6 separate regions of the Homo sapiens genome follow, and regions 2, 3, 4, 5 and 6 are each linked to region 1. Evidence: fine-mapped QTL for protein levels in blood plasma. A gene starts in region 1. Each other region holds a variant in brackets. All regions are shown on one strand. Distances are from middle to middle. Region 1 holds the start of FAP (fibroblast activation protein alpha). Region 2 overlaps PSMD14 (proteasome 26S subunit, non-ATPase 14). Region 3 overlaps SLC4A10 (solute carrier family 4 member 10). Region 4 overlaps TANK (TRAF family member associated NFKB activator). Region 5 overlaps FAP (fibroblast activation protein alpha). Region 6 overlaps FAP (fibroblast activation protein alpha).

Evidence for each region. PIP is the chance, under the fine-mapping model, that this variant and not a neighbour inherited with it causes the effect. The UK Biobank Pharma Proteomics Project read protein levels with antibody pairs (Olink). The fine-mapping took linkage between variants from a reference panel, not from the people measured, so its PIPs are less certain.
Region 2: its variant is fine-mapped to the plasma level of the FAP protein (UK Biobank, PIP above 0.99).
Region 3: its variant is fine-mapped to the plasma level of the FAP protein (UK Biobank, PIP above 0.99).
Region 4: its variant is fine-mapped to the plasma level of the FAP protein (UK Biobank, PIP above 0.99).
Region 5: its variant is fine-mapped to the plasma level of the FAP protein (UK Biobank, PIP 0.97).
Region 6: its variant is fine-mapped to the plasma level of the FAP protein (UK Biobank, PIP above 0.99). The variant lies in the coding sequence of FAP. If it changes the protein, the assay may bind it differently, which can mimic a change of level.

Annotation. Positions count from the first base shown.
Region 1 is chr2:162,241,439-162,246,874 of GRCh38, reverse strand. It overlaps FAP (fibroblast activation protein alpha), which reads left to right and starts at 3,430. Exons shown (of 26, transcript NM_004460.5): 1 at 3,430-3,553; 2 at 3,883-3,967. The coding sequence starts at 3,548. It overlaps LOC105373724 (a long non-coding RNA gene), which reads right to left and starts at 758. Exons shown (of 4, transcript XR_923544.3): 1 at 704-758.
Region 2 is chr2:161,344,733-161,350,198 of GRCh38, reverse strand. The region is part of intron 3 of PSMD14 (proteasome 26S subunit, non-ATPase 14); the gene reads right to left. Among named protein-coding and RNA genes, the nearest start is that of PSMD14, 39 kb to the right of the region's middle. The variant G/T (reference allele first, on the strand shown) is at 2,454.
Region 3 is chr2:161,932,348-161,937,347 of GRCh38, reverse strand. The region is part of intron 15 of SLC4A10 (solute carrier family 4 member 10); the gene reads right to left. Among named protein-coding and RNA genes, the nearest start is that of DPP4, 140 kb to the left of the region's middle. The variant A/G (reference allele first, on the strand shown) is at 2,768.
Region 4 is chr2:161,221,785-161,227,250 of GRCh38, reverse strand. It overlaps TANK (TRAF family member associated NFKB activator), which reads right to left. Exons shown (of 8, transcript NM_001199135.3): 5 at 3,260-3,336; 6 at 2,505-2,620. PSMD14-DT (PSMD14 divergent transcript) reads left to right here. Exons shown (of 4, transcript NR_110593.1): 4 at 3,768-3,993. Among named protein-coding and RNA genes, the nearest start is that of LINC01806, 20 kb to the left of the region's middle. The variant A/G (reference allele first, on the strand shown) is at 2,342.
Region 5 is chr2:162,195,778-162,200,777 of GRCh38, reverse strand. FAP (fibroblast activation protein alpha) reads left to right here. Exons shown (of 26, transcript NM_004460.5): 15 at 159-212; 16 at 1,897-2,021. Among named protein-coding and RNA genes, the nearest start is that of FAP, 45 kb to the left of the region's middle. The variant T/G (reference allele first, on the strand shown) is at 2,989.
Region 6 is chr2:162,216,865-162,221,864 of GRCh38, reverse strand. It overlaps FAP (fibroblast activation protein alpha), which reads left to right. Exons shown (of 26, transcript NM_004460.5): 7 at 1,940-2,012; 8 at 2,682-2,802; 9 at 3,725-3,879. Among named protein-coding and RNA genes, the nearest start is that of FAP, 24 kb to the left of the region's middle. The variant T/C (reference allele first, on the strand shown) is at 2,748.

The sequences.
Region 1 (5,436 bases):
GTGAACATCATTAATATTTTAGCCTTAATTATTTTACCCTCACAACCTTAAGTGTCCCCCAACAGCAAATCAGTGAAATGTCAATTATAATTTTAAAAAAAATTTATCACTTTGGAATAAAACTTTAGGAAGTATCACAAAGAAGCAATGTAAGGTGGTAACACTGGGTCCTGTTAAAATCTTGGGCAAGTTATCCAGTTTTTCTAGGCTGTTTCCTAATCATCAAAATGAGTTTTGGTATGGATCAGATGAAATAATGCATTAAAATCACTTTGTAGATAACAGTAAACAATAAATGTTTATTGAATCTGAGGAATCAAATGGGTAGGATGTTAGGAGCTGTTAGGCTCTCTAGAAGCAAATTTTTACTTTAAAGAGTATAAAATCAGGCTTATGTTTACTGCACTTGTATCCTTATTCCCCTTGTAACTTGTCCTTAAATAATTTGTCATGGCTTTTGGTTAATAAACACATCTCTCTTTCATCTCCCCACCATAAAATAAAAAGATAACATCCTTATGCTCTCAGCATGGTCTTACCTTCAGACTCTAGAAATACATAGCTGGATGTGTTTTCTGGGAAAACATATAAATTAAAATCATTTTTGGCAGGTAAACATTGGCTACTAATAAATAGTTCTAGTAAGCTCTCCTCCTTATAACCTAAGGATTTATGTTATAGCTCACTTATCCAGTGGGCTTACCAGAATGCAGTCATATTCCAAAGTCAGCCTTACAAGGTCCCTCTCTGGAAAGAACTCAGTTGATGAGCCTCTACTCTCCTAATTGCTGCCCTTACATTTTTACATGACAAATCATCATCCTTTCTGGTTTTGCAGCATTTTAATAGACCCAGAGTTGCTTTCTGAGAAAAGTCTCAGTACTAACAAAGGTTAGAACTAACAAAGGTTGAACTAAGGATGACATGCATGTGGTATGTGCCCTTTCCAGTCCTCTTCCCAGGTCCATGAAGAAATCACCAACCAGTGAGAACACTCTTTCTACAGAACACAAACTCAGCTTCAGGCTATTTCTGAACAAGAGCTTTAGGAAGCAAAAGGAAACAAGTATGTAAGAACATTAAGAACATACCTGCCATACTTATACTAGAATGTAAGTTCCTTAAGGGCACAGACTGTGTCTGATTCATTTTTGTTTTCTCAACAAAAATGTTGATGGGGTGTTAACTAATTGTATAAAGTAGGAATAAGAGTCAGTTTCGTAAATGTTTTTTAAAAGTTGACAAAAGTATTTTCATTTTGATTCCAAAATTAAAAAAAGCTAATAAAGATATTACAATATTTTAAAAATCCAAATTTTATGAGAGTTCTTGTCTGGATGAAAATTAGAATACATTCACATTATCTCAAACGAATGAACATGTGTGACTTTATAAAAACAATACCTCCCTAAACCATGAATTCAGATGGAAAAACTCGACATCTTTATTTCTGCAGTCAGTCTCATTTTTCTTAAAACAGTTCAAACTAGTAAGAATTTTCCAGAAGTTACAGCTTGACTCACCCAACCTTCCAAGGAAAAAACAAAAAAACTTAAACAGACATTGTTTCACTCTCATCATTTCCCACCCTTACTAATAGTGGCAACTTAAGTGTATCTTAAAGCACTCCAACCTCTTCATAGAGCCTATTAAATGAGTATCTTGTGGACACCCACACACAGTCATAGAATCCTAAGTGGTGCTCAGACCAGTCACATGTCAGTGCATTCTTAATTGCTAGAGCTAACATGCTCTCAGCATGGTCTTTTAATTACACCCTAATAATTTATTATAGTTTCTCTCTACAATGTAAAGTCTTGGAAATCACCCACTAAAAAGTGCCTGTGTACTCTGGGGCTTTGGCAGGCTAGGGCAGAACTTCTGAGAACACGGTGTGTTCCAGAGAAGACAATCAATCTGAGAGGACTTACACAGAAACAGTTCATTCAGGACCTGGCTGCTGGCTTTTATCTGAGATCTGAGGATTTCACAATCACTTGGAGATACCTACAAGTGTATAGCACACCTTGGATATTACTCTTAATGATTACTTCATTTTGTAAAGAGGTGACTCCACCAACAGCAAAGGAGAGGGCCCAGCCCCAGCCACCAGGAATACAGTTCTCTGCCAGTAAGTGCCTAATGACTCATTTTCCTCAACAGAATTTTCATAAGGCTGGAATTCAGGGAGGGATGTCTGGAGAATGTCTGAAAGGAAGTTCACAAGCCACTGTCCTGCTCTTTGCTGGAGAAAGTGTCCCGTGGTAGCCAGAGAAGTTGACTAAGGCAAACAGCAACATGTTTTGGTAACATTTCCCCATTACCTTTCATGTACAATCCAAGAAAGGTTGCCATGAAGTGTTTTAATCAGGTTGGGAACATTATAAACTTCGAAAAAAGAAAACCATTAGTGGAAAAATTAAGGACACAGTAGATTTAACAACTGTGTTTACGTGGAACCACAAAATCTATCCAAGTGAATTGCATTAAAACAGACAGAACACTCCAAGAAACTGTTGTATGTGTATTTTTTTTAATTCAGTCAACCATTTTACTAATCTGTCAAGATGACCAATTTCTTTGGAATTATGTAGATTTAGCCAAAATGAAATTATACATAAGATTTACTTTTCTTTTCAGATGCTTTTTTATTTATTTTTAAATCTTTATAATTACTAGATGTTCTCCTCTCTCAGAAGATATTCTGAGAGGAAAGCAAAAATACCACTCTTGTAAAGCCATTTCCATTCTTCCAAAGGTCTGCTGGTAAATTATTCTTACTGATCTTTCCATCTTTCTAGCCTGTGCATACACACCTAACCCATACTAAATTTCACCAGATGGCATTTTATTTCTTTAAAGTAAAGCAGCCGTGGGTTTAGACAGTTGAATTTTTAAACTTCTGTATTTACTGAAAGTGCATATGGTGCTATATGGACAAAGAAATTGTGCTGAAAGAAAAACATTTCTGTCTGCAATACCTCATAATCTTCCAGAGGAAAAAAAAGTGCAGTTATATGGCACATTTCTCACAAAATCTTATGTGGCTTCAATGTTCTTCCTCTGTTAAAAAGTAGATATATGTTTAATGTACAGACCTGCAAGTTTCATTATTTTAAATTCATCTTTTAGTGGCAAATAAAAATGTTATGCAAAACCCAATGACTTGCTAAAGTGATCCTTCAGTGAATTCTAGAAGAAAATGCAACATAAACCTGAACTGGTAAAAAAGAAAAAATAAAAACCTCTGTATGTCAACGTAAGCAGATGTTGGTGTAGTTACAAGGATGAGAAGGCTATAAAACTTCCCTTGAGTCACTCACAGTTCATTTGAGGGCCAAGAACGCCCCCAAAATCTGTTTCTAATTTTACAGAAATCTTTTGAAACTTGGCACGGTATTCAAAAGTCCGTGGAAAGAAAAAAACCTTGTCCTGGCTTCAGCTTCCAACTACAAAGACAGACTTGGTCCTTTTCAACGGTTTTCACAGATCCAGTGACCCACGCTCTGAAGACAGAATTAGCTAACTTTCAAAAACATCTGGAAAAATGAAGGTTAGTATAAGCAACCTCAAGTATTCTTAAAAAATTAGGGTTGGCTGGATTGAACGTGATCAGAGTTTTCTATTGTTTAGAAGGTGAAGATTTGTACATAAGTATTTACTTCCTCAATGGGTTGGGATTGGAAAATTGTTCTAAATATACTGTAGAAACATTTGTCCTTGCAGAGCTGGAAGAATTCCAGCAATTATAGCCGGATCAGTGGAAAACAATCAAAAGCTTTGTGGGGCGAGAGAAAAAGGATTTAGGTGTAAACAAAATCTTGCCATTTCTACTATTTAGCAGGAACTGTGTGTATGCCTAATTCTCTTTATTTTATGTAGACTTGGGTAAAAATCGTATTTGGAGTTGCCACCTCTGCTGTGCTTGCCTTATTGGTGATGTGCATTGTCTTACGCCCTTCAAGAGGTAAGAACTTTCTCTGATTTGCTCTATCTGCCTAGAATAGCTTGGAAAATGTACTAATGCAAGATCACAAGTGGTTGAACATTTCCTAAGTGCTTATGTTCCAAAGTAAGTCTGTTATTTCTAAGAAGACATATAAGCTCACAGATATGTTGTTGTGCAAGACCAGAAATACTGAGGAATTTAAGGCATGGGTAGGAAGAGATTTACAGTGTTATTTCAGCAATAGAAAAACCTAAGAACTATGCTGCATCACCCCCACAACCCCCAAAAATATATGCTAAATACAAGCTTTGACAGGCCTTTAGAAACAACATTTTTAACTAACATTGCTTTTCATTATTAGGTTTGTCTCGTGGAAAGTAAAAATGAGTAAGAATGGAAAAGTTAAAACAGAATCTATGGACTTTTTTTATTACTAAATAGTCTTTCCAAAAATTTAGGGAGGAAGTTGAGAATACAGATCTCAGGAATAGCTGTATAGAAAAAGCAAAGTTGTTGTTTTAGATGTAGTAGCACTGCACATCAAATTAGAAAACCAAACATTGTTAAGCAAGCATTTTGATCAGTCATAAATTGGATCCTTTTACAAAAAAGGCTTAGATTGACACTGATCTCACTTTGCTAAAAATTGGAAGGTACTATGGGCTGATATCAGAGCTAGTTTAAATATAAAGTAGGACTATGTTGATAGATAATCTAGTGATATTAGGGAAATAGCTTTTTATGAAAATATTTATGAAGAGAAACTCAAGCTTCTGAAATGGAAAAAAAATCCAGTAATAACAGGTCTTATGTCTTTGTGTCTAGGAAAGGGGAAAAATTTGTACTAATAAATACTAAAAGTTTATGATAACAAATGTGGGAAATATCTTGGTTAAAAGTTAACTGATAGTAAATGAAGATCAATAAAATAACTTCAGCTAAAGAATGTATGAGTCCTGAATGACTGGACTGTTGCTATTAAAAAGAACATAGAAAAATGTTTTCGAAAATTAAAAATAATCATGAGATTTTCACAGAATTACAAAATAGAATAGGTTAACCCATAAGATGAAGTCAGCTGATATCTTCAGTGTTAATTTCAGTCTTTGTTTCTGCTCTCTGCCAGCACAAGATTCTTCTTAGGCTGTTGAGAGGTATGTAGTGTGTGTACATATCTTTCATAAATTTTCATGTTAAAATTGTTTTCAGACTCATCTCTGAACTCAGTGGTCTTGGGGCCACATTTCCCTCATACCAGCAATTGTCAGGTAGTGGATTAGGTCATATAGATCCTTTGAATGTTAATTCATTAAAAATTAGCTCCTGATTTTTAAAGAAACTCAACCTTGAAATTGATACTCTGCACCCTCAGAAATAAATGTTCTTGGAACAAAAGTTTGTTAATTTTATAGGGCACTTGCCTCCATGTCCATAGGGAAGGATGAATTTCACTATGGAATTCAAGCTATAATTTCTAATAAGAAATG
Region 2 (5,466 bases), 900 kb after region 1:
ACCCTATCCCCAAGTAACTACAAGTACTTTCTATTCTAAGTTCCTTACACATTTTATTTGTTCTGCCTAGCTTAAGCCAAAGGCAACTTTATATTACTAAACATACCAACATTTCTTTAAAAATGTTACCACGTATTTGTCTTTAAATAAGCATACTTTTAAGACTTAAGTACCCTCACCAAATGGACATTCCCAGTTCCCTCTTATGAAAAGAATACAAATTAAATCTACATCTCAATGTTATACATATCATATTTTTAATCTTGTTGGAAATCAATATCAACTTTGAAGTATCTTCTCTCTCCAAATGCTAACATAATTATTCATTAATCAACAAATACATCTTTTACTTTAGGCAAGAAAACATTCACAGTTTAGACCATACCTTGCAAGCCCTGCTGGTCTCTCCAACCCCACCCTGCTCGTCTGGCTCACAGCAGACTCTCCTCCCTCCTCTGAGGAGCACACCTCAGCTGCCCTACATATTCTCTGCTACAACTCTTCTCCTCATCATGTAATTAAGTCTCCATTAATTCAAACACTCTGTAAGGGTTTGGCATTCACTTGTTTGTAACTTCACATAGGATCTAGGTCAGTGCTCCACAGACTACATCTGTTACCTGATCGAACATCTTAAATAGAAAAGTCAAAAAGTTTAGAGAAGTGTACTGAAATAATTGAAAGAACTCCACACTAGGAAAGACTACCAAACACACACAAAAAAGATGCTCAATAAATAACTCTTCAATCTCTTTATAAATAAATGCAGTTTTAGCTTTTATTTTTGACTCACTATCTCACCCACAAACATGCCAAGCAGGCATTCTGATGCCTCTGTGAGCCAGGCATACATGAAAATGCCAAAGGCAATCCTTTGCCTGTGTGGTCTCCATTAAGAAATTTAGATCCTTTCTCTAGGAAGAGTAAGTATATCCAAAAGGCATAACAAATGAGAGGCTAGAGAAAGGGGAACTATTAGGATTTGACGCATACTTATAAAACAACAGACTGTAGATACTATGTTGATGCAAAAGTAATTGCAGTTTTTGCCATTACTTTCAATAGCAAAATTTGCAGTGAATTTTGCACCAACCTATAGTAAGCCAATTCGGCAGCGGACTGAGCAAAAGGGTCATTTACCTAGAAAGCTGATCTGTCTTCGGCCTAAGATAGAAAGATGCCTCTCTGGGAGTGAGAGGCCAATGAACCAGGTATGTGAGCAGCAGAGAGGAAGAAAGAGCCACGTGACAACTACCTGGAGTAGGAACAAATGTTTTTTCTAACCACTGTTATTTACTTTATTTCTTTTAAAATTTATTATGAAATATTTAGGAAATACAAAAAGGTCTAATGAATAATACAATAGTTCACTACACCCAGCCTATGAAATAAAACATCACTAAAGCAGCTGGGTTGAAGCTCCTGTGTCCTTTTCCCTGACTAACTGCATCCTTACTCCATATCCTCAGATGTCACCGCTATTCTCATCTTAGTGATCGTGCATTTCTTTATACCTTTACTACATAAGTATACACAAATAACATGCAGTATCATTTTGGGTATCTTAAAATTGTACATAAAAACAATCGTATAGAATTATTCCTCCATGTGCTTTTTCATTAGTATGAACTATGTGAGGATTATTCATTTTTCAATACTTTACAAACTTCCACTATTAAGTACAATTATGTACACATTCTCCTACTGATGGATAGTTGGGCCATTTTCAATTTCCTGAAATTATAAACTAGGGATCTCCAAACTACAACCTATCGGCAAACCAGCTGACTGTTTTTTAAAGTGAAATTTTATTGGAACATGGCCAGGCCCATTCATTTTTGTAATATATGGCTGCTTTAGCACTACAATGGCAGAATGAGTAGTTGTGACAGATATCATATGGTCCATGAGCCTAAAATATTTACTATCTAGCCCTTTAAAGAAAAGATTATCAAACCCTGTTATAAGCAATGCTGTTATGAATGTCCCAGTATCCATGTGGGAGACGTTCTCTAGGGAATGTAATTAGGAGAAGATTTGCTGGGTTGTAGGTTAGTCAAATCTTCATTGTTAACAGATTCTGCCAAAAGTTTTTCCAAGAGGGTTGTATACTCTCACTAGCATATACATGTTTATGGTACATTTCTGCTTCTACTAATGTTTGTATCTTTTGCCCATTTTTAAATGGATATCTTTTTCTTATTGATTTGTCAAAGCTCACATAATTGACTAATACCTTGTCAATTATATGTTAGATAAAACTTTCCCAAGCCGTAGCTCACTGTTTGCTTTTTATGCTTCATGCCTCAGCTGCATCTGAAAAATGAGCACTGTGACAATAACCAAACTGCAAAGAGTTGTAAAGATTACATGACCTAATATATTTAAAGTACTTAGAAGAGTACCCGGCACACAGTGAGTGCTCCACAAATATTAACTGTTTATTTTTTAGT[G/T]TTTTTAGATGAAAATGAATCAATCGTCCCTTTATTATTTGTGCTATCTTGTTTAAGAAATCCTGTCCTACATATTCAATTTTAAGTATCCATAAAGCAATATAAATCTCAGCCTCATCTTATTTATTCACTATCTCTGAATGCTAAGAATAGTACTTTCTGTTAATCTGGTTTCAATTAACTATTTAATTTGAACAGATTTTCTTAAAATCTCAGCACTATCTTAATATGATCTAACGTCTGAGTAGAGAGAGAATTCCATCTAGAATATTCCAACACAAATTTTTCCCATTAAAAAGTAAATAAGGTGCAGTGGGCTCATGCCTGTAGTCCCAGGTACTCAGGAGACTGGAGCAGGAGGATTCCTTGAGTAGTTCGAGACCAGCCTGTTGATATAGCAAGACCTCCTCTCCCAAAAAATAAATAAATAAAAGTAGACAAAAGGGACATCTGCTTATGTCCAAGACAGATAGAGTAACAGAAACTAAATCTACATTCCCACCTAAAGCAAAGAAAAAACAGACAAAACTCTATGAAACAATAGTTTGTAAGACCCTGATCAAGCAACAAAGAACAACGATCTCCAAAATTTGGGAAACAAATGAGGTGAGCCTTACCCTAGCTTACTGCCTTGAGATACTTTTTGGACTGCAGTGCAGAGGGGAAGAAACCCAGGCAGAGGACAGTAGACTCTCTGAGTTGAGATGACAGAGCTGAGATTACTGAGACCAAAACAACTCGTAATCTGGACAGAGTACCACAGAAAAAATAGCTGCAAAGAGAGAAAACCCTAGAGATCTTCACAGGGTCCTCTTTGAGTATTCAGCTTAATAATGATCAATGCATGTGTGTGAGGAATCAATGCATGGTCTGGGGAAAGAATCACTCAAAAGGATTACAGGGAAGAGTACACCTACCTCCCACACAGCACTGGAAAGAGTTCCTGTTCCCACCAGCCAAACTAGAAAATTTCAGAATTCACAAAATTAGAAGAGACAGAAAGGTCTAGCCTCAATAGTAGAAAATAATGACTCCTAAACAAGGTACTGCCCCAGTCTTAACTAGCAAGGGTTAAAAGCAAAACTAGAAAGAATCAAACAGTTTCCAAGTAATTCAACTGCATCCCATAACAAATATCAAGAATATTTCTAAGAATAAAAAGTAGCCAGCACACGAGATAAGACTCACAATGTGAAACATCTAGTAAAAACTATCAGACATACAAAGCAGCAAAAAAAATATGGCCCACAGTAAGGAGATAAGTCAGTCAACTGAAACTGAGCACTGACAAAGATGTTAAAATTAGCAAAGACATTTAGAAGTTTTTAAAACTGTCAAAAAGTTAAGGAGACACATGGAAAACATAAAAATGACCCAAATAAAACTTCTTGGGATGAAAATGACAATGTACCACTAGCAATAGGATAAAGCAGGGGGTGAGTTCAGAGAGGCATGACAAAACTTTATCTCTAGGCTGTCAATAAGTTGTCCAGAAGAAAAAACAATGCAAAATAAAAAATACACTAGATGGGGTTAATAGAAGATTTAACAAAAAAATTAAATGGCCGAGCACGGTGGCTCACGCCTATAATCCCAGCACTTCGGGAGGCCAAGGTGGACAGATCACCGGAGCCCAGGAGTTCAAGAACTGCCTGGGCAACATGGCAAAACCCTCTGTCTTCTAAAAATACAAAAAATTAGCTGAGAGTGGTGGCACATGACTGTAGTCGGGAGACTGAGGTGGGAGGATCGCCTAAGCCTGGGAAGTCAAGGCTGCAGTGAGCTGTGATCATGCCACTGTACTCCAGCCTGGGTGACAGAAGTGAGGCCCTGTCTCAGAAAAAATAAAAATAAAAAGAATGAACTTGAAGATGTAGCAACAGAAAAATGAAACACAGGGCAAAATGATTGGGGAAAAAAATAAAGCCATCTACAATTATAAGCAGAAAAAATATAAATATCTTTGGGATTCCTGGGAAGGGTGGTAGGAGAATAGAAAAAAATATTTAAGAAACAGTGACCAAAATTTGTCCAAATGTGATTAAAATAACAGGCCTTCGGACACATGAAGTTCAATAAACCAAAGCACAAGAAACATGAAGAAAACTACATCAATGAATATCATAACCCAAAATCAGTGATAAAGAAAAAAATCTTAAATGTATTATACAACAATATGAATAGAGGCCAGGCACAGTGGCACATGCCTATAATCCCAGCACTTTGGGAGGCAGAGGTGGGCGGATTGCTTGAGGTCGGCAGATTGCTTGAGGTCAGGAGTTTGAGACCAGCCTGGGCAACATAGTGAAACCCTGTCTGTACAAAAAATAGAAAAATTAGCCGGGCATAGTGGCATGCACCTGTGGTCCCAGCTACTCAGGAGGGTGAGGTGGGAGGATCGCTTGAGCCCAGGAGACAGAGGTTGCAGTGAGCTGAGATCACGGCACTGCACTCCAGCCTGGGTGACAGAGCAAGACCCTGTCTCAAAAAAAAAAAAAAAAAAAAAAAAGACACAGAGATCAAGAGAACAGAATTGAAATTTCAGAAATAAATTTTAACATTTAATAGTCCATTGATCTTTAACAAAGGGACCAAGACAATTAAATGAGGAAAGAATAGTCTTTTCAACAAATGGTGTGAGACAACTGAGTATCTACATCCAGAAGCATAAATTTGGACTCCCACCTCAAAATATGTACAAAATGGATCACGGAACTCAATATAAGAGATAAAACAATAAAACTCTTGAAGCAAACAAGAGTAGATCCTCATGAACTTGGGTTAGACAAGCATTTCTTAGCATGATATCAAAAGCAGAAGTCAAAAAAGAGAAGAAGACTGATTCATTGGACTTCATCAAAATTAAAACCTTTTCAAAGGTCGCCCTCAAGAAAGTGAAAAGATAAGCCATAGACTGAGAGATAATATCTGAAAATCATATGAGCAGGCTTGTGTCCACAGATAAAAAGAACTCTTATGACTCAATGATAAAAAGAAAAATAACTTAATTTTT
Region 3 (5,000 bases), 310 kb after region 1:
ACTGAGTGCTGGGGGGCCTGGTAAGTATATTGCATATTAAAATAATAACACTAAATAGCCTTTGGTTTGTGATTAACATTGATTATGCTGCCATCATTTAAGGTCCAGATCATTAACTGAAATGATACTTTAAACCATATTGAGTATCTTTTTTTTAACACAATGGTATGCGACTAGAAATCAATAACAGGAAGAATTTTGGAAAATGCAGAAATATGTGGAAATTAAACAACATACTCCTCAACAACCAGTGGGACAATGAGGAAGTTAAAAGATAAATTTAACAATGTATTGAGACAAATGAAAATGGAAACACAACTTGCCAAAAACAAATACTTTTGTAGATTGCAACAGTAAGAGTTCTAAGAGGAAAGTTCATGGCAATAAACACTTACATCAAAAAGGGAGAAAGATCTCAAACAACCTATAACATTGTACCTTAAGACACACAAAATAAGAAGAAACTAAGCACAGAGTTACTAAAAGGAGGAAAATAATAATCAGAGCAGAAATAAGTGAAATACAAAGTAGAAAAACAATAGAACTGCTCAACATTTTATTGTTGAAATAGAACATTCTATTCTATTCTATCTAACAATAGAACAGCTCAACTAAAGGTTGGTGTTTTGAAATAATAACAAAATCAACAAATGTTGAGCTAGACCAAGAATAAAGGAAAGAAAATTCAAACAAATAAAATCAGAAATGAAAGAGGAGACATTAAAATACACTACAGAAATGCAAAGGATTATAAAAGAACGCTATAAACAATTATTATCCAACATATTGAATAACCTAGAAAAAAATGGATAAATTCCTAGACACATATAACCTACTAAGGTTGAATCAGGAAGAAATAGAAGATCTGAACAGACCAATAATAAGTAAGGAGATTGAATCAATTACCAAAAGCCTCTCCCAAGAAAGAAAAGCCCACGACCTGATGGCTTCAGTGCTGAAATCATCAACCATTTAATGAAGAACTAATAATACCAGTTCCTCTGAAACTCTTTCAAAAAATTGAAGAAGAGAAGTACATCCAAACTCATTTTATGAGGAAAGCATTACAATGATACCAAAGCCAGACAAGAACATTACAAGAAAATATTATAGGTCAATATCCCTGATGAACATAAATGCAAAAACCTTCAAAATATACCAGCAAATTAAATGCAACAACACAGTAAAAGAATAATTCATCATGATCAAGTGAGATATATCCCAAAGATGCAAGGATGATTCAACATTTACGAATCTATAAATGTGATACACTACATTAATATAATAAAGAACAAAAACCATGTGATCATCTCTACAGACACAGAAAAAGCATTTGACAAAATTCAACATTCTTTCATGATAGAAACTCTCAGAAATTAAACATAGAAGGAATGTACCCCAACACAATAAAGACCACATGTGATAAACCCACAGCTAATATCTTATTCAATGGTGAAAAGTTGAAAGGTTTTCCTGCAAGATCAGGAATAAGACAAGAATGCCTACTCTTGCCACTTTTAGTCAACATTGTACTGGAAGTTCTAGTCATAGCCATTAGGCAAAAGAAAGAAATAAAAGGCATCCAAATTGGAAAGAAAGAAAGAAAGAAAATTATCCTTATTTGCACATAAAAATGGGTAGCACTTTAACACCCTAACAACAAACTATCTGAAAAATAAAATCAAGAAAACAATCCTGTTTGCAATAGTTACCAAAATAAATTTCAAATACTTAGGAATAAATTTAATCCAAAGGAGGTGAAAGACCTGTACACTGAAAACTATAAAACATTGATGAAATAATTGTAGAGGACACATATAAAAGGAAAAATATCCTGTGTTTATGGATTGGAAGAACTGATATTTAAAATATCCATACTAACAAAAGCTATCAACAGATTCAATATAATCCCTGCCAAAATGCCAATGACATTTTTTACAAAAATAGAAAAAAGCAATCCTAAACTTTGTATAACCACAAAAAACAAATAACCAAATAAATCTTGAGCAAAAAGAACAAACCTGGAAGTATCACAATATCAAACTTCAAAATACACCACAAAGCTGTATTACAAGGCAGCATGGCACTGGCATAAAAATAGACACAGAGGCCAGTGAACAGAATAGACAACCCGAAATAAATCCATGTATTTAAGGTCAAATGATTTTCGACAAAGATGCTGAGAGCACACAGTGGGGAAAGGACAGTCTCTTCAACAAATGGTGTTGGGACAACTGAATATCCACATGTGGAAGAATGAAATCAGACCCTTATCTCACACCATATTTAAAAAAGGATTAAATACCTAAAACCACTATAAGAAAACATTGCCATTTGTCTGCATAATTTTTTTTTGGATTTAACCCCAAATCACAGACTGGGAAAGCAAAGATAGACAAATGAGATTACATCAAACTAAAAAGCTGCATAGCCAAGAAAATAATCAGCAGAGTGAATATACAACCTATGGAATGAGATAAAATATTTACAAACCATAAATCTGATAAGAGATTAATGTTTAAAATATACGAGGAACTCAACACAACTGTAAGAAAAAAAACAAGGTTAAAAATGGGCAAAGTATCTGAATAGACATTTCTCAAAAGAAGACATACAAATAGCCAATGGTATGTGAAAAAATGCTCAAATCACCAATGATCAGAGAAATGCAAATTAAAACCACAGAGATACTACCTCACATCTATAAGAATGGTTATTATCGAAAAGATGAAAACTACTCACAGTAGCCAAGATTTCGAAGCAACCT[A/G]AGTATTCACCAACAGATGAATGAATAAGGAAAATGTGGTACATATATATGATGAAATACTATTCAGCCATAAAAAGAATGAGATCCTGTCATTTGTGTCAACATGAATAGAAGTGAAGGTCGTTATATTAAGTGAAATAAGCCAGGCACTGAAAGACAGACTTTGCATGTTTTCACTTATTTGTGGGAGCTAAAAATTAAAATAATCGACCTCATGTAGATAAAAAGTATAATGATGGTTATCAGAGGCTGGGAAGGGTAATGAGGGGTGGGCAGGCAAGTGGGGGTGGTTAATGGGTACAAAAATATAGTTAGGTAGAATGAATAAGATCTGGTATTTGATAACACAACAGGGTGACTACAGTCAACAATAATGGATTGAACATTTTAAAATAATTTAAAGAGCAAAATTGGATTGTTTGTAACAGAAAGAAAGAACAAACGCTTGAGGTAATGGATATCTCATTTACTCTGATGTGATCATTACACATCAAAATGCCGGTATCAAAATATCTCATGCACCCCATACATATACACACTTACTGTGTGCACAAAATTAAAAATTAATTTTTTTTTAAAGATGAAAGTGTCTGAACAAGTGTTGGCGAGGAGGTGGAGAAAGGGAAACTTTTCACATTGTTGATGGGAATATAAATTAGTACAGCCATATGGAAAACAGTACGGAGTTTCTTCAAAAAATTAATAGACCTACCATATGATCCATCAATTCCACTACTGGATATGTACCCAAAGGTAATTAAATCAGTAAATGGAAGAGATATCTGCATTCCCATGTTCACTGTAGCATTTATTCACAGTAGCCAAGATATGGAATCAACCTAAGTGCCCATCAATGGACGAAAGGATAAGTCAAACATGGCATTGAGGCTGAGTGTGGGGGCTCATGCCTGTAATCCCTGCATTTTGGGAGGCCAAGGCAGGAGGATTGCTTGAAGCCAGACCTTTGAGAACAATCTGGGCAACATAGCAAGAATGTTGTCTCTATAACAAATTTTTTAAATTAGGCAGATGTGGTGGCATGTGCATGTTGTCCTAGTTACTCGGGAGGCTGAGGCAGAAGTATTGCTTGAGCCCAGGAGTTCCAGGCTGCAGTGAGCTATGATTGTGCCACTGTACTCACTGGGTGACAGAGTGAGAGCCTGTAAAAGAAAGAGGAAAGGGAAGGGAAGGGAAGGGAGAAACAAAGAGAGAAAGAGAGAGAAAGAGAAAGAAAAGAATAGAAAGAAAAAAGAGAAAAGAGAGAGAAATAAAGAAAAAAGAAACAAAGAAAGAGAAAGAAAAAGAAAGGAAGGAAGGAGAAAGAAAGAAGAAAGAAAGAAAGAAAGAAAGAAAGAAAGAAAGAAAGAAAGAAAGAAAGAAAGAAAGAAAGAAAGAAAAGAAGGAAGGGGAAAGAGAAAGAAAGAGGAAAGAAAGAAGAAAAGAAAGAAAAACAGGCAGGAAAGAAAGAGAAAGAAAGATAAGTGGCATATATACATTGTGGAATACTTTTCAGCCTTAAAAAGGAACAAAATTCTGTCATTTTGACAATTTGGATGAATTTCAAGGACATTATGTTAAGTGGAATAAGCCAGGCACAGAAAGACCAATACCTTGTGATCTCACTTATATGGGGAATCTAAAAAGACTGAACTCATGGAAATAGAAAGTAGAATGGTGGTTATCAGGGGCTCAAGGAGTATGGGGAGAAAAGATCAGACCTAGACACATCTAGAGCAACTGTAGCTCCAACTCTCAAGAAATGGCATTAAAGAAAAGTACTTGAACACTGAGAGGTCTTTTGAAAAGAGTCAGTGGATCAAACTCCCTACAGTAGTAAAGATTGTGGTAGAAAGATCCTATACTTTACATTTTTCCAAAGATAAGTAGGAGGCAGATCAGGTGAATCCTGAAGTTCCAGAACCACCACAGATGCCCAATCCATGTCATCATCCACATAAGAGTTTCATGTTCCTCCATGATCTGATCCTGAGTCCCAGTTTGGGACTCAGAGGCAAGTCCTAATAGAAATAACCTTTCATACTTAATGAAGATACCGAGGTACTAGACTAAGGATTAAGGATAGTAAAGCTCAGTAGCATGTCCATAGTCTGAAATGAGATGAGTGCTTATTTTAAAAAGTAGAATCTAATGTATCCATATTGATCTTGGATCCTGCTCCAAATGGAGGCTTATACATTATACCCATGGTAGCCTCCCTCAAAGTGTCAATTTG
Region 4 (5,466 bases), 1.0 Mb after region 1:
GCAAAGCTAGCTGGCATAAAACTCAGCCACATTAAAATAATCTGAGTTAATCTGCTCAAGCAGTGAGAGTTAATATCTATTAAAAAAATTTAAACCTTACATTCCTAATGCTACTAGAAATCTAAGCTGAGACAACTTAAAACTCAAATGAGATGCATGAAAGCACTTGTCATCCTGACACCATATTGAGAAACATGATCAGGTGAGCAAATAGCTTTTCTATTTTGTCTATTTTAAGACTACTTAGCTTTGCAAGGAAAAAGTAAAATGGGAAATATTTTTAGATTTCCCAGTTTTAAATACAGGCTATCCATTTAGTTACTTCTCAGTATAATCACGTTGTATATTGACAAAAGAAAAAGACCTCATGGTTGTTTATTACCCTTCTCATGGATGTTTGTTACCCTTAATCCTATATTCTTCCTTCCCAATCTCTACTGAAATTGGACACTCCTTTATGAACCAAACAGTACTTTATTTGAAGCTATGGATAAACATACATTTTATCTTTATCATTTCTTAAGTCTACTGCCATATGTAGATGAGTAGAAAAAACAAAGTAATAATAAATAGGAAATGTAGAATTCTACTAACTCAGTATTTTCAAATGAATCATATCTGGTTATTTAAAAGTAAAAATCAAATTTTAATACAAAATAACATAGGGACAATACACGTACTCTTCCCAGATATATTGTGCAAATCATATTCAAAATAGTTCTTCTATATTTTTATACAGTGTAGCATACATACTTGGAAACCCTGAATAGGCATCTTTTCAAAAAATATTTTTTCCTTTCTCCTTTTGATATACCACTGTCAGAGTATAATATTTATTTTGGTTTCTCTTTGGACCCCAGCAAAACTTCACTAGAGTCTGTAGCACAAAATATTTTGAGAATAATGTACTTATTATTTGTGACACTGTTAATATAAAGCATAAAAATAAGGCATCAGGAAGCAGTTTTAGTGGAGAAGAAATTGAAGTTAAATACTCAGTGTTCTAGCTGACAGACACATACTCAGATTTAGACCTGTGCAATTTAAAAATGGTCAAAGTATTAAGCCATTGATAATGAGATAAGTTTTCTGTGTAACAAAGAATATATCACCATTACAATGCCTTGAAAAGATGTTGATGTTCAAAAAAGCATGTTTATGAATTCTAGGTACTACATCTCCATAGCTAGCATATTTTAAACAGAAATAATTCATTTACTTCAGAGGTACCTAGTTATCTTTAGTCCATACAAAAGATCAATTTCTCATGAAAATGACAAAAATTAAGGTGAAGAAAAGAGTTGTTTTTGGGGAGGTGGGGGAAGGGAGAGAAAGAACCAAATTATGTCTGTCTACAAAGATTATTTTGTTTCTGTAATACCACATTGTGTAACTTTTCTGAAAATAAAATGGTAGTAGTAGCAAAAAGTGAATTTACACTATAAAATGATTTTAAATAGCCTAGATGTAAGAGCTGCAAGAAATGGAAAGTGATCTTTAATTAAAAGGGTGTTAGTCAGCAAGACTGCAACATCTCTCAGAGTGAAAACTGTAAATCACATCCTTTGGGAATTGTCTGCAGAATAGCTCAAATCACAAAGGTAAAGGAGAATTTATCATTATAAATGATCAGTTTACCTTCCTTTTGTTTGCAGAAGTGTTTGGTTGCCAGACCTAATCCCTTAGATTTTGCTATTCATATAGAACTACTGAAGCAAACACCAGGAAGCCAGTCTGGGGTTTTAGGAAAGGGTACAGCATTTACAAAACATACTATAACACATATGTAAAACAAATGTTCCTTCTAAATTATATTTTATACTAAATGTGTATTTTGTGCATTAAACACAACTAGCACTCAGGAAATTTGAGTGCCACGTTTTTATTCTTGAACCAAATGAGTTCAAAGAATTCTTGAGCCCAGGAGTTCAAGGCTGTAGTGCACCATCAGGCCTGTGAATAGCCACTGCACTCCAGTCTGGGCAACATAGCAAGATTCTGTATTGAATTAAAAAAAAAAGAACATTAAAAAAACATCTATCCATAGTGTATGTAATGCACTTTCAGGCAGAATTTACAAACAAACCTGATGTTATAATTTTACTTAGCTCATATAATATGGTAGTGTGGCTTCAAGGTCACTTATTAACATAAAAGTTAATGTTTAATAAGGTCCCCCAAAAAACAACTGAAAACTTTCAGGGATATAGTCTGTATTTATTTTGTATTTTTTTAAGGTGGGATGTCTCATTAAGATAATTAGTAATTATGTCTTTCAATTTAATCTATATAGTACCATATACAACAAAGAGAAAAAAACCAACAATTACACATGTAATAC[A/G]TTACAGAACTTACACAGCATGTACACATTCAAACATACGTGGATGAGGGGTAAATTACAGATGCTACACACTTAATAGGCATTCAGGAATATTTTCACATTCAAAAGGAAATCAATTTCAATCAAGCAAATCAATATTACTGTAAATTAAATTAAATCTTACCAGTTGCAGTGTCTGGTATATTAAGTTTGCTTAAGTGGTCTTTCTGTGCTTTTGCTAGCATGCATATTTTATGAAATTCTTCTTTCAGATCCCAGAAAGTCTTCTCTATATTACCCCTAAAAAAAAAAATCAACATTTTAAAATGTAAAGCTATAACTTCCAAGTTTTTTAAATAATCAAACTTATGTAGTACCATTTTATGTGCCACAAAATAATTATTTAAAAGTAAAAAAAAATTATTTTAAATTCCTAAACAATGTCCCCAAAATCAGCTTGTGTTTGTAGAGGGCCAGGCACAAAGTAAGTGATAAATTAAAAGTTTTAATACATAAATATAGTATAGTCTAGCATATCTACTTATTCATATATACACTAATGTTGGCTGTCTTATTCTCACATTAGAAATTTCAATGCATTGACTTTTGTTCTCTGCAAATATCTTAAATAGAATATTAAATATTCCTCATTTTGGTAAGGTTCACATTAGGAGCCATCCATATAAAGAAATACGACCTTAACACTTGGTCTATTGAAATAGTAGAGCTTTACAGAATTCAAGTTTTAGATTCAGCTCTGCTATTAACTGCATGACTTGTTTAGGTCATCTTTAACATGTAGGATTCTGGGGTTGGTCACTTCCACTTATTCTAAAAGGCTATTTTTTTTGCAATTGTTAAAGCTTAAAAAAAACAAATATAAAATATATTTCAGTATTGATAATTTTTAAGAGTTGAGAAAAAAGGATGTAGAACTACCTTTCATGGAGCAAAGGACTGCCAAGACTCCTTGCTGAAGTTTCTTTTCTAGGAGAAGAAACCTCTTGTCTTCTTACCTTAAACATACAAAATGATTACTATTACTACTTTAAATTGCTCCCAAATTCAAATGAGGTCGAGTAAAGAGAAAACACAAAGGAAATTTTATTTACCTTCCCTACTGAAAAATAACTTGAGACAGCTTATAGACCTATATGTAATATACAATTGATTTTTTTCTTTAAATGAGAAAAATCAAGGAAAAAGGAAAATGAAGAAGGAAAGTCTGAAGAGATGAAATATTTCTGGTAACTTCAATTACTATTTCCGGTACTGGTAATTCAAGAAATTTCTCAAATTCAACTATTGATCAAAATTGCTGCTCTGTTCACCAAGCACCTCATACGCTCAGAAACTTAGGGGGAAAAAAATCTATGTGTCTACTTCTTTTGATATTCAGTAAAAATGGCCTATATATTTAAATCAACGTGTTTGTCTTTTGTTATAGATTCTTTGCTGAAGAATGCAGCTGTATTAAAGGAAGAAAGAAAACCAAGCTACAGCTCCTTATAATTCAACAAGCATTTAAAAGATTTATAAAGATGGTGCAATTATGTATTTAAGCTGCTTCAACACAAGTTCTTGCCTTTCACTCCCACCCTGTGGCTTACACTGGTATTACATCTATTCTGACATTTAAAAATCAACATTAAAGAACATATTGTAATAATGTATTCTATGGTTTAAATATTTAAAAAATTTTACATCATACCTAGAAAGTGTTGTGTACTTTCTAAAGCTTATAAACTGAAAAGGATTTGAAGAATCCTAATACAGAATCATAAGTTATAATTCATCCAAAATTGTATAGTTCTTAAATTTCAAATCCAAACCAGTGGATATCTGTCTTTAGTGACATTTAGATTTTATTCAATTAAGGTCATTGTAGCTATTATAAATGGAAGATTTTACTTCATTGTGTCTTATCACTGAAGTACTTCACTCTTGCTTTTCAAAAGATTTCTTTCAATTTCTTCAGAGTCTTATTTGTTCTCTAAGACAAAGACTTGATTTCAGTTTGTTTTTCTTAAAATTAATATCTTCTCCAATTTATTTCCCAGTTTTTTCTAAATAAATACTTTAAATATATAGAGTATTATTTTTATAGTATCTCAGAATTAGTAAAATAAAATCTTGCCAATACAAACAATTTGTGATTTTATACATTATATTGTCAGACTGAAGTAAAATAAAGATTATTTTGTTGCTGCATATCATGTGTTTGACAAACATTCAGGTCATATATTCTTCTGGATTAAAACTGCTGTATTGAGCATTATAAGGCAGTCACATCAGAAGATATTTTCACATTCACAGTTTGTTTTTAAAAGTGGTAGACAAGGTTTTTCTATGGTGTTTTGTACAATTAGAACACTCAATGGATTTTAGTGTGGACTAGGAAGAAAGGCAACATTTTAAAGCTAGCCAGCCAGTCAGAACACTACAAATACGAAAACAAACTTTTAAAAGATTTTATTATTAAGTCTATATCAACAAAATCAGAGAAGAGGTATATTAAGAAAATACTTATATTTGATAATTTAATATGTCAAACAAATCATAAAATAAGTGATTATATATTAAATGGAATGACCTCCTTATAGTGAGCCAAGATTGTACCACTGCACTCCAGCCTGGGCGACAGAGCAAGACTGTCTCAAAACAACAAAAAACAAAACAAAAAAAAGAGTAATGCCCTGTAGTTTTAGCCTAAAACTGGAGATAGTTACAGAAAGTGGTAAAGATAGTGCTCCAAATTCCAAAGTCCTGACTTTGACATAAACTAGGAATGACTGCTTCTGAGATTAAAGAAGTATTAAAAAACTAATGGGGATGAAGAGGGCTGAAGGAAAAGATAGGAAAAAAATGACAAACCTTTGTCTCGCTTGGTAAATAATTGATGCTAACTTACTTCTGTGATGTTTGGATTTGATAACTAGTGTGGGTGAATTTATCAAGAAAAGATTCCTTTGGTGTATTGGCAGGAGGTAAAGGAGGACTCCTTAAGGAATTCCTATGACGTATCTAAACTAAGGTCTTCAGCTTCTTTGGGGTTAGAAACACAGCTCTGCTTACTATTATTTTTGTTTTTATTCTTATTGAAAAAAGTATTACTGGTTGTACTAGGCAATACACTGCACCTTTTA
Region 5 (5,000 bases), 46 kb after region 1:
AGTTCAGTTATGAACAGCAGTTATTTGTGTACTTAAGCACCAATTAATTGTTTCATTAGATAAATGCTTACCTATATTGATACTATATTAGTATTAATACTAACAATCCTATTATCACTTATTTATCAATACTTAATAATTTCTGAATATATTTTCAGGTTTTATTCTAGCAATGAATTTGAAGAATACCCTGGAAGAAGAAACATCTACAGGTAATTTATGTCCATTCATTCTGGTATTTCTATGTGTTGATATTTTAATATAAAAAGTCATCATCCCCAGGAGATGCAAAATATTTTTAAAGTATGGCACATAATAAAAATCATTTATGAATTTAGAGAAAACATTTGGAGAATGGGTATAAAAAACACACACTCGCAAAATGTTAGCCAATTCAAAATATTTGTTTTCAAAAGGAAAAAACAAGAAATTCTAATGTTTACATGAATACTAAATACTATTCTGGTACTAAACACTTTAAGTACATATAGAGGTAATTGAGGACATTTCTTTATTTAACACACATTTGTTGAGTACCTAGTATGAACCAGGCATTGTTTTTATTCTGATAATATGTGATTTCCTTCACTCTGTCTCACTTTGGCACCACCCATGTCTGTTCCTATATTAGTGTTTACATTCAGTCCAGTTGTTCCCTTGAGGACTGAAATGGTGCCCTCGACAGCCCTTTCTGGGTGTGGAAAGGAAAGCAATAGTTACTACATGCTGGTAGTCTATTATATGCCAGGCACCTTTTAATCTGACTTACATATGTAATTTCATTTAATTCCAACAGCACTATGAAGCAGGTAATGTTGTTGGAGCCAGGATTTGTACCTGGGCATGCTGATCTCTGAGCCCTTGCTGTTAACTGCCTCCCTAATGTTTCCAAAGTTCCACCCGAATAGGGACATATGTTAACATACTAACCCTAACAGAGGAAATAAGAAATTTTCCCTCTGTCATATTCCCCTGTTCCCTCCTGGATCGTGATCTTACTTTATGTGTTAAAAAGAATCACTCTCTGGGTCCAGCAGTGTCTCTGGCCTGGCCATTCTCTGCCATGCCCAAGGCAAAGTCAGGGACAGCAGCAGAAGAAACTCACAGGTTGGCACAGGAGACCCTGACAGGCACCATGGGGTCCTGACCTGTCCAGACCCTGGCATGACATCCTCTAAACTCCTCCACATGGAATTCTGATTCTGAGGGTGTCGGATAAGGTCCCTGAGTCTGTGTATTGAAGCCAATCACCCTGCTCAGGAACCACACAGATGACTCTGCAGGGTGAGTGTAGGGCCAATGTGGGCAGTGCAGATTGGCTTGTGTAGACTGTGTGGAGGGGGCATTCCCAGCCTGAGCTTCCATGAGCCCAAATTTCCTGCTGAAAGGAATGAAGGCGCAGAAGGCACTTAGAACTGTAATTTCTTATTTCCAATTTGCTTATTATTAATTTCCCCATCCTGATATATGGTAAGAACAGGGACTCTTTCTTGGTGATACTGCCAGATTTTCTTGCTATGTTTTGCCATGGGGTGGAAACAGAGAGATAGAAAGACGAAGAACTATGCATTCCCAAGCACTTTGTGAAGTGTAAGAGATGAATGGTTATGGGAAGTGACTACCTCACTGCCATTTGAGGTGTTAGATATTTCTCCCACTCCAGGGAAACCACATAGGGCTTCTTCCTCAAGGTTTGTGCCTATTAAGGCAAAGATGGATCAAAAATCAAGCTACATCAAAATACTGTGATTCCCCTTTACTTTAAATGATATTGGCAACAGAAAAATAGAGTGGGTTTGATGTCAATATGTAAATTAGTCACTTTACATGGAGTAGTACATTTTGATAAATACAATCTCAAAATTTCAGCTTAGTTTTATTTTCATTTCCCTCTAGAATTAGCATTGGAAGCTATCCTCCAAGCAAGAAGTGTGTTACTTGCCATCTAAGGAAAGAAAGGTGCCAATATTACACAGCAAGTTTCAGCGACTACGCCAAGTACTATGCACTTGTCTGCTACGGTAGGTAACGGACCTCACATAAGCACAGCATCCCCACAGGCATGGTTGTCATCCTCCTCACCTCTATCTGATCAATTCGTAGCTACAGTTAATGAGCATTTGTTATATGTAAGAATCTTATCTTGTGCTTATAGAAAAAAAATTAAAGGAGGATAGGAAGGTATTATTATCTTTACTTTTTTGCAACTGAGGAAACAGAGTTTGGGGAAACAGGGTAACTTGCCAAAAGGTCCGCACTGCAGCTAAGCATCAGCCAGGACTGAAGCAAGTGCTGTTGCCTCTAAGTCCCATGCTCTTAACCACCACATTCCACAGCACTAAGACTGCGTGCAGAGGCAACCCGTCAGCTAGGCTTCGCAAGACCTGAGCAATCGCAGAAAAAGAAATGTTCTCTGATAAAATGGTTGCTGGACTTTTGGCCCCCTTTGCCCAGAGAAATATCAAACTCTCACATCCAGGGGAATGAACAACGGCTTGGAAACCCGAGATGCCCACGTCGGAGGTCAATCATTCCTCAAACTGTAGTTTCAATGGGGATAGAAGATGAACCTTTGTCCTTTCTAAATTTGGAAAACATCGTAAGTAATGCATCAAATATAACAAACCATAAGTAATAAAATCTACAAAACATTTCCTGGTTGTTTAGGACATACGTACATTTAATGAATAATTTCTACCCATATAATTTTATTTTATGTGCAACCTTTTATCTATATCTTGAGCATGTGGCAAACAATAAAACAGGTTAGGTTAAGAGGCCAATATAGATCAATGAAATATATTGGGGTCTAAGTAGTCATTATGGAGATTTGGAAAACTGACTCGGGAATCTCTAATTCTCCAATCTCTGTCACCTCCCTCCAGCTTATTCCTAATTTGGGGCTGAGAGTTAGAGTACTTGGAAAAAGGTATTACAAAATGTATGCTACCCTCCTGTTTTGGTATCAGCTCCCCTGGTAGGGGTATG[T/G]GGCTTAAAGAACAAATGGAATCTTTGACTGCTTGATATCCCTATTCAGTTGCAGAGGCCCTGAAGATCTCATAAAGGGAACCAGAATGAAGGCTACCCTAACATGCCACTTCCCTCAGTCCAGCCACCTGGCCCCGGAACCTGAGCTGCAGCTCATTTGACTACGTGGACATGAATAAGCATTTTAACCCAAATTCTCCCTTGAAGATAGCACAAAGATGTCAGTTTGAAATAACACTTTCATAAAATGTTTGGTCAATGGCATCTTTGAAATGTCAAGAGATTGTTGTTCATGACCATATGTGCTGATTGTGGTTACTGGCATTTAAAGGTATACATTAAATGTCCCTCTCAAGTTATATGCAACATTTTTCAACCTAAGCTATATATTTATGCAACATAGATTGAAAGCTTACATGCCAGGCACATAGTATCATTGAGCTAACTATACTGAGTCATCTGTTTATCTATCTTTTTCTCCTGGAAGGCAGGGGCTACATTCTTTTAATCTTTGTATTTCTAAGACCAAGAAGAATGTCTAATACATAATAGACATTCAATGTTTGTGGAATTAACATAGATATGAGGTAACATTGCTGTCCCTTGCAGTCTACCAAAAAAGCTGGTTTTATGCTGATGCATTTGCTGATGAATGCATCAGTGACACTACATTTACATCCATGCATTTATATATGTATGCATTCTGCATTTGTATAATGCTTTAATGTTTTTGGAAGGCACTATCTCACATTTTGTATTACGTTGTCTTCCTAATATCTACTTGAGCCTGTGTGCCCACTGAAGAGATGAAGAATAAAAGCCTAAGCTCTCATCAAAAGTTGGTGGAAGAGTCCTTTCTAGAACTTGAATCGCCTGACTTTTCCACCACTCACTCTTCCTCGGCAGTATGGTAATTTCCCATTTAGCAAAAAATATACTGTGTGGGAAGCATCACATCGTCTGGTGTTTTTGAAGCTCCAGTAAAATGAGTCACTGCGCCATCATAGGAAAAACCTTGAAATCTTTCCCTTCAGGACTAAGAGTAAAGCCTCATTATGTAACTTCAAACTCTCCCGAGGGATGGTTAGTAAGTCCCAGATGATAGGATCAAAACAGGTAAAATTATATCGATGATGCTGATGGAACAAAAGCATGCAAGGTAGGCTTCTCAAGGTCTGATGTTTAGGCCACTAGGATCACACCTTCATCCAGTGTCAAATACAGTCAGTCATTTATCTGTCTCATTTTTTAGGCAAAAAAAAAAAAAAAAAGATATGCAAGTTTCCATTATTGAAACTACACACTCATGAAAATTCCACAGGGTAGATGCTGGTTGATTAGAGTCTAGAAATTTATATTCATGTCTCATTTCTTTGCATGCTGGCTGAAAATGTAATATGTGTATTTGTCCTTTTTCATAACTTTGATGAAAAACTGGCCAAAATGAAAATCTCTGCAATAACATTCTATAAAATTCTGAGATTCCACACAGGAAGTTTTGAGTCTTGAGGGAGCCTAATAAATACTATCCTTTTTCCTCATTTCCAAATTAGACTAGGATTCAGGCAGGAAACCAAAATATTATCTTTACTTGTAAAGGCTAGTTGGAAAATGTGGTAAAGCTGTGTGGTTTCCCAATATTGCATCCCAGAATTATACTTACACAAATATAGGTATGACAGGGCAGCCACCATCTTCCTCCATGGGGCTTGGCACTGGCACAGGTACAGCACTGAGGAACGGATCAAAAGCATGTTCTCTGCAGGCAGAAAGATGCCAGAAGAAAGACAGAAGGAGCTACTCATACCCAAGTCTTCTCAGAACTCTACAAAAAAATCATTTCTCCTCTGCTTAGCATGAGCCAAGCATGCTACTTTAATGGGTTCCCTCCACATAGAAGGTAGCATCCTCACCCTATCTGGGGGGGGTGGGGTGGCAAATGAACATGTACCTCCAACCTCCACATTTGTTGCTTTTAACCTACTGACTGAGCAAATTTATGCTTAAAAGGT
Region 6 (5,000 bases), 25 kb after region 1:
CTTTTATATGCCTTTGAAGACTCTATAAAAATCTAGCATAGAGAAAACAAAACTACTGGTTTCAAGCTAGGTAGGCAAAACTGAGGAGATGAACGCCTTTGTAAAGCATCCTCCCTCGCCTTTTCTCATACCTTTAGTGACTCAGAAAACAGAAAATGGCAGCTGTGATGGCTTGAGACATGCGCTGAGATTTTTAGCTTAGTGCTGCTTGTGTGATTGCATAGATAATTCCACTGTATGTAGAAAACTGAGACAATGTTACAGTATGAAAGGTAACATGAGCACTAGCTTGAGAACAAATTGTGAACCAGGTGAAGAATGTCTTCTTATTTTTTTTTTTGAGACAGGGTCTCGTTCTGTCGCCCAAGCTGGAGTGCAGTGGTGTGATCTCGGCTCACTGCAACCTCCTCCTCCCGGGTTTAAGCAATTCTCCCGCCTCAGCCTCCTAAGTAGCTAGGATTACAGGCTTGTGCCACCACTGCTAATTTTTGTGTTTCTGTGGGGACGGGGTTTCTCCATATTGGCCAGGCTGGTCTCGAACTCCTGGCCTCAAGAAATCCGCCGCCCAAAGTGCTGGGATTACTGGCGTGAGCGAGCCGGCCAGGCCTGGGTCAATCTTTTAACTGGGCTCTTGCATCCCTTTCAACATGTTCCCGATCACCCAGGGGCCTGGTGCTCATGTACTGCCCTCTGGCGGCCAGGACTCTCATTGCAGCACCAATGGTCACTTTCCATGGGAATCACTCTCCCCACTCAAAACTATGCCATGTTCCCTTGCTACTTGCTAGGTCTCATGCAGGCACCTAAAAAGTTACATCAAGGCAGTGTGTGTTACAGATCTTCACAATTGCCCAAATATTAAAAGAATGGGAAAGGCAGAAATGTCAGGCACATGTTAGCTCCAGGTTGGAGAGCTTTTTTTGGAGGGGTTGGGCAGGAGTCTTTTTTGAGGCTCTTCAAATTGTGCTTGGGCGGCAGGTCTTGCTCTGCTTTCCCACGAAGGCAGTCTCGATGAAACTGTTAATACAATCTTCAAGATGACAAAAGTCAAAAAGTAAGCATGACATCCTACGACTCTGCAACACTTATAAAAGTCTGAATGCATTCTTGCTGAAGAACTACAAAAGCTCCACAATGCAAGTCACTTGAGTGCTTGCAGAGTGACTCTAAGCATCAAAGTGAGAGTTTTGGCCAATAGACTATTTGAAATTTCCCCATGGGTGGAGGACTTTACAAGCTTAAGGCATACTGCCCAGTATACAATCCGTTTTTCAGTTTAGCTTGAGATCAGATGTTCCTTTCCTTTTCTGATTTCAAGTCAGATCCCTGGGGAGATTGTCAAATGGCATCTTATTTTCAAAAATTTGAAATGCATATGCATTCACAGAGATGGGGGTTGTGAATGAGAATGTAGAAGAGCACATACTAAACTTCAGCACAATTATAGAATTTCAGAGCTGGAAGGCACTTCAGTGACCATTTCAGTCTAGTGTGTGCAAATTTTACAATCCCAGGGGTTAAAAGGACTTGAGTTTAATTCAAGGTCTGCCAAGAACTAGCAATGTGGTCTTAAAAAGTTCTATCAGCTCTCTAAACCTCATATTTACTTTCTATAAAATGAGAGGACTGTATTAGATAATTTCTAGAGATCTTCTCCACTTTGACAGTCTGTAAGTATTTAATCCATTCACCTCACTATAAAGGTCAGAAAACTGACACCCAGTAAAGTTAAGTGACTTTTAAGTAACTACTGGAAGAACAGCAATCAACACCTATGTCTCCAGTTCTTCATTCCTGCATTCTTTTCATTAGGTTTGTGGGTGCAGAGGGAATGATCCTTAATTTTCATTGTTTGTTTATTTTTTCTGTTCATACAGATTATTATTTTTTTGCATTAAACAGCAAGGTTTGTTGTTTTTCTTTCTTTCTTTCCTTCTAGAGAATTTGTAAGAGGAAATGAGCTTCCTCGTCCAATTCAGTATTTATGCTGGTCGCCTGTTGGGAGTAAATTAGTAAGTGTTTAAATTTTTGAAGTGTTTAATCATGTAAATAAAAGAGGAGCCATTTGATTTTGGCCTTTGTTAAATTTCCCTGCCTGAAAGAAAAAAAAATACATTCATGACTATTTTAGTGGTTAAAAACGGGAAGAGTTTTGATAAATTGAAACCCATCTGAGAATTCCGCAAAATCTCAAGCTCATGGATAGACTTCTTTAAATATAGCAGTCAAAAACTTTATCCTTATACTCAGCCAGAATGCGTTGTGCCAGAAAGCTCAGGAAAAATATGGTTTTCACAAGTTTCCCAGACTAGCTTCAGACAACATGAAATTTGGTCCAAGCTCTTATTTAAGGACTCTAAATAAAGATTAGATCTGGCTAGCTATTAATATTCAGAGATTTATTCGACTTTCTGTCAATATACATAATTATTTATTTGGGGTTAATGAAACAACTAAGAAAATAATAGGCTTTATTTTTTATTTGATTCAGACTTTAAAATTCATAATTGATGTTAATGTGAGTTGGTTGGATTTTTTGACCTATTAAAATGGTATTTTAGTTGTGAATCTTTTTTGTATCTTTATTACCACTCTGTTTAAAGGTATTAGAGGAATAATTAAAACAAATATACAGCCTTCATTTAATTTGTTGTGGAATTTCCCCTTACCACCACTTTTAGGCATATGTCTATCAAAACAATATCTATTTGAAACAAAGACCAGGAGATCCACCTTTTCAAATAACA[T/C]TTAATGGAAGAGAAAATAAAATATTTAATGGAATCCCAGACTGGGTTTATGAAGGTAAGCTGTATTCCTTTTCTACTGCTAATGCTTTAGGCTTTTAATTTAAAATAATTTCATATATTTAGTAAGATTTAGATGAGTAGTATCTTATTTCCATGAAGGGTAGCATTGCTGAAAATTGTCTCTAGGTTACGAATAGGGCATACGTATTTTAAAAGAACAAATTCTTGTTATCAGAAAACTGGTAGAATTGATTCTCAATAACATCACTATGAAGTGGTAGTAATGATTTATAATCCAAAAAAGTATATGGTCCTCAGGTGCCGCATTAGTACATTTTCTCATGTTTACTTTTTCTTTAGAAATTTTTTTTTTTCAAAACTAAACAACTGACTATGTTATCTTATGGGAACATATTTTTACTTTCTGATACTCTGTTGATTTTGTTCTCATTCTAGGTCATGTAGAATTCAGGACTTAATTGGACTTTAAAGAGACTTCTAGTCTCTATCTATTTATCTATCTATCTATCTATCTATCTATCTATCTATCTATCTAAACTAACTGTGTTTTTGGTTTTTTTTAACTCTTAGGAGGGAAATGTAACTTTCAATGTTTATGTCACTCTCTAGTACAATTATAGTTCTTTCTGTTTTGGCTATCTTAGGTGACTAAAAAACCTGAAACTGCCCTGAAAGAAAAAATTAATTAGTGCCAACATGTTTATTATTTATTTAAAAAATTACATTTCTGATTAATGTCATTTTCTAACAAGGCTAATTGATGTTTGATATAGAGTGAAAGGGTAAACTATTCCTCTTAACTCAGATTATGTAATTTTTTAATAACCAAAGTATGACATATGTCACATCCACATTAAATAAATTATTTCAGTTGATAAATAGCTATTTAGAAGTATTTACAATGATTTTAAGAGTAAGATGTAATTATAGTTAATATCCTAGTACTTATTTTTCAGAGGAAATGCTTGCTACAAAATATGCTCTCTGGTGGTCTCCTAATGGAAAATTTTTGGCATATGCGGAATTTAATGATACGGATATACCAGTTATTGCCTATTCCTATTATGGCGATGAACAATATCCTAGAACAATAAATATTCCATACCCAAAGGTATGTTGAATACTTTCAGCGATGCTTTCATTTTCCTGGTATCAAAATGAGCAATGATTTACCATGAGTAAAGGTGGGATCAACAAGTTTGGAGAGCTTCTTATCCTTGAGCATTGTAAGGCAAACATTGTACTGTGCTCTATTATTTATGTGGACATCTGTTGCTTTGGACATCTGGTTGTGCTGGATGAAGTAGTCTTTGCAAAATCTATTGCAGAATCTTTGAAAAACATATGGTCTTGATCATGGAGGAAAAACAAGCTTAACTTAATTTTAATTTTTTTCATATTTCATGCTCCAAATTCAGGGTAAAGTTCTGTTTTGCAATTCTCTCTTGAATTCTCATGTAAATGCAAACTAGAATATGAAATACAAATGCTGAATTTGATGTTCCTGTCAGGTAGAAGCAGGCATGGGTTATGGTCCTTTCTGGATGTACAAGATAGGTTAAATTTATAAGTCTCAATTTCTCCCTTGAAGGAAGTAGACATGGTGTGAACCCATAGTTTTTGGATATTTAACATTGTAGAGTTGTTATACATTCTTTTTATTGAGTTTCACATCTGGAGGGAGGAGACCTGAGTGTGCAGTAGGAGAATGGTCAGGTCTCAGTGAAGAAGCATTATATCCTAATTTCAATGTAAAAATGATATCAGAAAAAATGGAATCAAAGTACAAATTTACCTCTTGCACAAGGAATCGGATGCGATTTTAGAATTCACTTCTTTGTTCTTTGGATGCTATTGCTTTTACTTGCCAAGGGGAATATTGTCGTGGCTGGACACAGTGGGTCCCTGGGTGACAAAGACGGTTGGATGTGGTATACACACAAGTGAATTCTAAGCAAGCCAAAGTGGCCATAGAGAAAGAAATAGAATTGCAGACAGTGTAATATTTATGTTAAAAGTCTAAAAGCTGTGTAAAAACTCTAAAAGCTGGAGATGTTTGGGACAGGCCTCACATTTTGGGGGAACCCAAGATGTAAAAGAACTCAGATCTTTGGGAGGACCTATGGGAGCAGGAAGAGACGGGGAACCCAGAACTGAAGAGTGACTGACACTGATTGGGAAGTTGGGACCCACATTCTCATATTTCCTTGAGGCTTAAGGTTGCTAAAACAT